Linked DNA regions of Homo sapiens: region 2 is linked to region 1. A link means that fine-mapping ties the variant in region 1 to the expression of a gene that starts in the linked region. Tissue or cell type: putamen. Region 1 holds a variant in brackets; the other region holds the start of a gene. All regions are shown on one strand. Distances are from middle to middle.

Region 1 (2,842 bases):
CACCCTCCAGGGCAGTCCTGTGGCTGTTTCTTGCTTCCTGCCCTCTGATTTTAGAGGTGGGTAGCCCTGGGCTCCTCCCAGGTCTGGACATCATCATTCCAGCTAGAGACATGGAGCACCCCCAATCACAGGGGAAGAGACAGAGTGGTATAACAGTCTTCTTATGCCAGACGCGGTGGCTTACGCCTATAGTGCCAACACTTTGGGAGGCTGAGGCAGGAGAATCACTTGAGGTTTGGAGTTTGAGATCAGCCTGGCCAACATGGTAAAACCTCATCTCTACTAAAATTACAAAAACAAAAAACAAAAAAAGAAAGAAAAATTAGTGGGGCATGGTGGTGGCGCATGCCTGTAATCCCACCTACTCAGGAGGCTGAGGCACGAGAATTGCTTGAGCCCAGGAGGTGGAGGTTGCAGTGAGCTGAGATTGCACCACTGCACTCCGGCCTGGGCCACAGAGTGACACTCTGTCTCAAAACAAAACAAAAAGACTCCTTAGATTAAAACTGGATTCCAGCCTCAGTTCCACTGGTCACCATTCAAGTACTTCACATCTCTAAGTCTCTGTTTCTTTAACTTCAAAAGGAAGTTAGCATTTTCCTTACAGAGGTGCTGAGGATTAAATGAGATAATACATGGGAAGCATTAGGCCTGTAGCACATTTAGCAGATGGTGGTTGGCTCCCACTACTTTTCTACCATTCTGTGGCCTACAGTTGAAATGGTGGGAAGAGGACATGAGATTTGAGGCTGGGGAAGGAGGCATGGGGTTCTAGGAAAGGGAGGCAGTCACTTAGGCCTGGAGTAAGGGGCCAGGGGCCTGGGCAGGCGACAGAGCCCCACAGTGCCCTCGCTACCCTATTAATGGGCCCAGAATCTGGAAACCAGCCACCACGTGCCCTCACACCCAGGGTCTTCCTGCAGGTGGAGCTGAAGAGCCAAGAGGCTCAGAGTCTGCAGCAGCAGCCAGACCATTACCTGGGTCACCTGCAGCAGTACGTGGCCACCTATCAGCAGCAGGTGGCCGCCTATCAGCAGCTGACCTGTGAGAAGGAGGCGCTGTACAGGCAGTGACTGCAGCAGACCCAGCTAATGAACCAGCTGCAGCAGCAGGAAGCTTGGGGCAAAGCGGTGGCCGAGATGGCCTGCCAAAAGTTGCAGGAGGCCCAGGGGAGGGAGCTGCCGAGGATGGGGCCGTGAGGGGGACGACCTGGCAAACTCTGTGCCTTCTCACTCTTTCCTGGCCCCTTAGGAGCGTCTGGAAGCTGCCAGCCAGCAGAAACAGCAGCTAACGGCCCAGTTGAGCCTCATGGCTCTCCCTGGGGAAGGTACGGGAGACCGCTCAGAGGAAGAGGAGAGAGCCCCAGGAGGAAGGGGGGACTGCTAGCAGCATAGGATTGAGGAGTTGGAAGAGACCTTTAGAACAGCTGGTCATTATACTAACCGGGTGCCTGCACTAAGTTCAGCATCAATATGGTGACCTCCTGTGAGCGGGGGGCCACCAAGTTGCCTAAGGATGGCTGAACTGGCCGAGGTCAGAAAGGGAGCAGGTCAGAACTCCCGCACCGACCAGTAGTGGGAATGTGCCTGGGCAGTATAGCAAGATCTTGGTTCTTCAAAGTAAAAATAAATAACAGCAGCTCATTCCTCTCTGGGGAGGGCCTGGCTCAGGGTTACACAATGAGGGTGGAGG[C/T]AGAGGTGGGCCCACAATACTTCCCTTGTTGAGTTGTCTGAAGACCCCTCTGGCCACCCCCCACAGGACACGGAGGAGAACATCTGGACAGTGAGGGGGAGGAGGCACCTCGGCCCATGCCGAGTGTCCCAGAGGACCTGGAGAGCAGGGAGGCCATGGTGAGCCTGACTCCCCCTGCACCCATTTTGCCACCTTTCTCTGTGGTCCCTCCAAGACCCCTTTATGCTCTTCGTTTCCCTGCCTTCTGATTTCTCTGGACCCTCACCCCTTCCGAGAGCCAGTGGTCAGACACCATTTCACCTGTGACCAACATGTGCAGTCTCTGGGGCCCCAAGGGAAGGGGCTGCGCTCCACCTCTCTGCCCCATTTCTTCTGTGTATGCCCCTAGAAGAATGCTCACATCTTGCCCTCAGGTGGCATTTTTCAAGTCCGCTGGAGCTAGTGCCCAGGAGAAGCAGGCACAGTTACAAGAGCAGGTGAAAGAGCAGAGGGTGTGCTGCCAGCGCCTGGCTCACCCGGTGGCCTCGGCCCAGAAGGAGCCAGAGGCAGCGGTCCCAGCCCCAGGGCCTGGGGGCGAGTCTGTGAGTGGGGAGACCCACCGGGCCCTGCAGGAAGTCATGGAGAAGCTGGCCCATGCCGGAACTCACCTCCGCCTTCTCCATGACTTGAAAATGCCACCTGAGGGCAGGTCGCTGGCGAGATGTGACCCCATTATTTTGGCTCCAGAGCGGCTTTATGGACCACCTGGAGGAGAAGGCAGACCTGAGTGAGCTGGTGGAGAAAGAAGAACTTGGATTCTTCCAGTACTACAGAGAGGGATGCCATCAGTGAGTGGGAGGCCAGGGCATGGCAGGGGGAGCTGCAGGGCTGTTGGAGGGGCCCCAGCGTCTGAGCCCTGTCCTCCCGCAGGAAAGTTTATCACCCTATAACAAAGCCAGGGGGCAGTGCCAAAGATGCAGCACCGGGAGGAGGACACCATCAGGCTGGCCCTGGACAGGGAGGAGATGAAGGTAGAGTGTGCAACATCTCTGCGGGGGTGGGGGTGGCTGTGACGGTGAGCGCTGGCAGCAGCGTGACAGCTGAGCACCCCTCCCTCCAGGTGAAGCTGCTGGAGCTGCAGGAGATGGTGTTGCAGCTGGTGGCGACTACA
Region 2 (2,644 bases), 380 kb before region 1:
GCCAAGATGGTGAAACCGCGTCTCTACTCAAAATACAAAAATTAACCCGGGCGTGGTGGCGGACGCCTGTAATTCTAGATACTCGGAGGCTGAGGCCGAGAATCGCTTGAATCCGGGAGGCGGAAGGTTGCAGTGAGCCGAGATCGCGCCATTGCACTCCAGCCTGGGCGACAGAGCGAGACTCTGTCTCAAAAAAACAAACCAACCTGGTAGCTACCTAACACCCAACAATGGCTGAATGGTTAGACAAATTATTATACTGTCATTAGAATAATCATATTTATGTACCGATACAGAAACTGATATATATTAAATAAAAAGGAAATTTCGTATATTGTAATTGGAAACATGTAAAAGTATGTATACATTATGGGAAAACACCTAAAATACTAATAATTAGGTGAGGGTTGTGGAATTGAGTCACTTTAAAAAATATTTTTTTCCAAAAAAAATAAAATAACTTTTTCCTATTTTTCAAGCTTGTAATTTTGTTGTTGTTTCTTTTTTTTTTTTTTTTTGAGACGGAGTCTCGCTCTGTCGCCCAGGCTCGAGTGCAGTTGTGTGATCTCCGCTCACTGCAAGCTCTGCCTCCCGGGTTCACACCCTTCTCCTGGCTCAGCCTCCCGAGTAGCTGGGACTACAGGCCTCCGCCACGACGCCCAGCTAATTTTTTGTATTTTTAGTAGAGACGGGGTTTCACTGTGTTAGCCAGGATGGTCTCGATCTCCTGACCTTGTGATCCACCCGCCTCGGCCTCCCGAAGTGCTGGGATTACAGGCGTGAGCCACCGCGCCCGGCTTGTTGTAGTTTATTAAAACGAGGAAACTAGACTATGGGATCACAAGCCCAGAGCCCCATGTAGCTGACTCTAGCGCCAAGGGCGGAAGAGAAACGCCCAGCGCCAGGGCTCTCCTTCGATCTCTGCAGCGGCGCGCCGGGCTTCGCGCTCCGGTGAGTTGGGCCGGCCTCCGCTGGAGGCTCTTCGGGGACCGCTGCCCGCCGGTGCGTCCTGCCGCGCTCCGCTGCCCGGATATTGCAGAGGACACCACTCAGAAAGTATGCGTGTTTCTCCGCGCTGGAAACTTAACCAGGAGTCCTGCATTTCCATTTGCGAAATCCGGGAACCCCCGCCCCACCCAGCGCCTCACCGGCCCCTCACTGCCGCCGCGTCCGGCGCCACTGCTGTCCCCGCAGCCTAAGGCGCCGGTCCCTGGCACCCCCGTCCCGCCCCCGCCCCTCTTCCTGCTCCTCCCCCACCCGTCCCCCTCCCCTCCCCCGCCCGCGCCTCCCGGTCACCCCCCATCCCGCCCCGCGGGGCGCGGCGCGCAGGCGCAGGCTCGGAGGGCGGGCGCGGGCGGAATGGGGACTGCAGCTGCGGCAGCGGCGGCGGCGGCGGCGGCGGCGGCCGGGGAGGGGGCGCGTAGCCCGAGCCCCGCCGCCGTGTCGCTCGGCCTGGGCGTGGCCGTCGTGTCGAGCCTGGTGAACGGGTCCACGTTCGTGCTACAGAAGAAGGGCATCGTGCGTGCCAAGCGGCGAGGTAGGGCGGGCGGCAGGCGGCAGGCGGCGGGCGGGTGGGGGAGGCGGGCGGCGGAGAAGGCGGTCGCAGGTGGGGGCGCCCGGGTCGGGGCAGGGGACGGGGTCGGGGCCCGGGCCCAGGTTGGGGGAAGGCTGCGCGGGCGGGTGCTCCCCGCGGCGTGCCCAGGCTGCCGCCGCGTCCTGGCGCTCGGGCCCGGGAGCGGCCCAGGAATCACAGGTGCGTCCTGAGCGTCCGGCGCTTCGCCGACGCCACGGCTTTTCTCCGTTCTCAGCGGCTGGAGCGGCTTGCTTTGGTGTGCGGGCTTCCCCGGCTGACTTTTTCCCTCGGTCCAAGACCTGCCCCGCGCCGCCCGGCAGCCCTCGCCGTGGCCCGCAACCCGCGGCCGGGAGCCTCCTGCGGACGCGGTGCTGGGGTGCTCGAGCCCAGCGCCCGCCTGGAAGCGCCGCTTCAGCCGATGCGCGGCCCGCTCCTAGGGTACGCTCGGTAGAGCAAGACCTGGGATTTCCAGTCCCCCGCAGGGGCCTCGCTGGTGCAAAAGGAAGACCCGGGCGGGCTCTCAGGGCTGTGCGTTCCTGGGGTGCTCTTACGGAGCCCGCTGCGCCTTAGACCTGCACCAAATGAATACAAGTGATCTTCAGTTTGGAGAACACGCGCGGCAGATCCAAAACCAAGCCCTGGACGGGCCAAGGCCACTTCCCAGGTGGATGTGCCGCAGCACCGCACTCCGTAGTGCTCTGCGGGGTAGAGCTCTCTGTCAGTGTCGTTTGTGCTGGGAGGCCCCGGACGGGACCGGTTTGCCAATGCAGGATATGGCAGGCTGTGAAACAGTCCGTTTCCATTGCTTCCAGAGGGACTGAGAAAGTCTTGTGGTTCTTGGCCATACTCTTAGAAGAAGAATATTAAGAGCTCTCTGGGAAGGATGTGGCCCCCGACTCTTGGGTTGTGAGAGAAAGTGAACTCGTAATTTACATGGCGGAATGCAGGTGAAACTTTCTCTGAGTGAGCCAGGCGTTGGCTTCAGAGAAGAGATAAAGGGCCCGACAGTCTCGAATGAAAATATAAAATCATGGATAATTTAAGGAATTTAGCTTTAAAGTGAAAGCATAG

What was found. PIP is the estimated chance that this variant, and not a neighbour inherited with it, causes the effect.
Region 2: NIPA1 starts here. The variant in region 1 is fine-mapped to the expression of NIPA1 in putamen (GTEx, PIP 0.98).

Annotation. Positions count from the first base shown.
Region 1 is chr15:23,164,539-23,167,380 of GRCh38, forward strand. It overlaps the pseudogene GOLGA8DP and the pseudogene RN7SL106P. Among named protein-coding and RNA genes, the nearest start is that of GOLGA6L1, 29 kb to the left of the region's middle. The variant C/T (reference allele first, on the strand shown) is at 1,693.
Region 2 is chr15:22,785,298-22,787,941 of GRCh38, forward strand. It overlaps NIPA1 (NIPA magnesium transporter 1), which reads left to right and starts at 1,347. Exons shown (of 5, transcript NM_144599.5): 1 at 1,347-1,537. The coding sequence starts at 1,360. RefSeq lists silencers at 1,019-1,252, 1,215-1,574, 1,645-1,794, 1,805-1,934 and an enhancer at 2,285-2,394.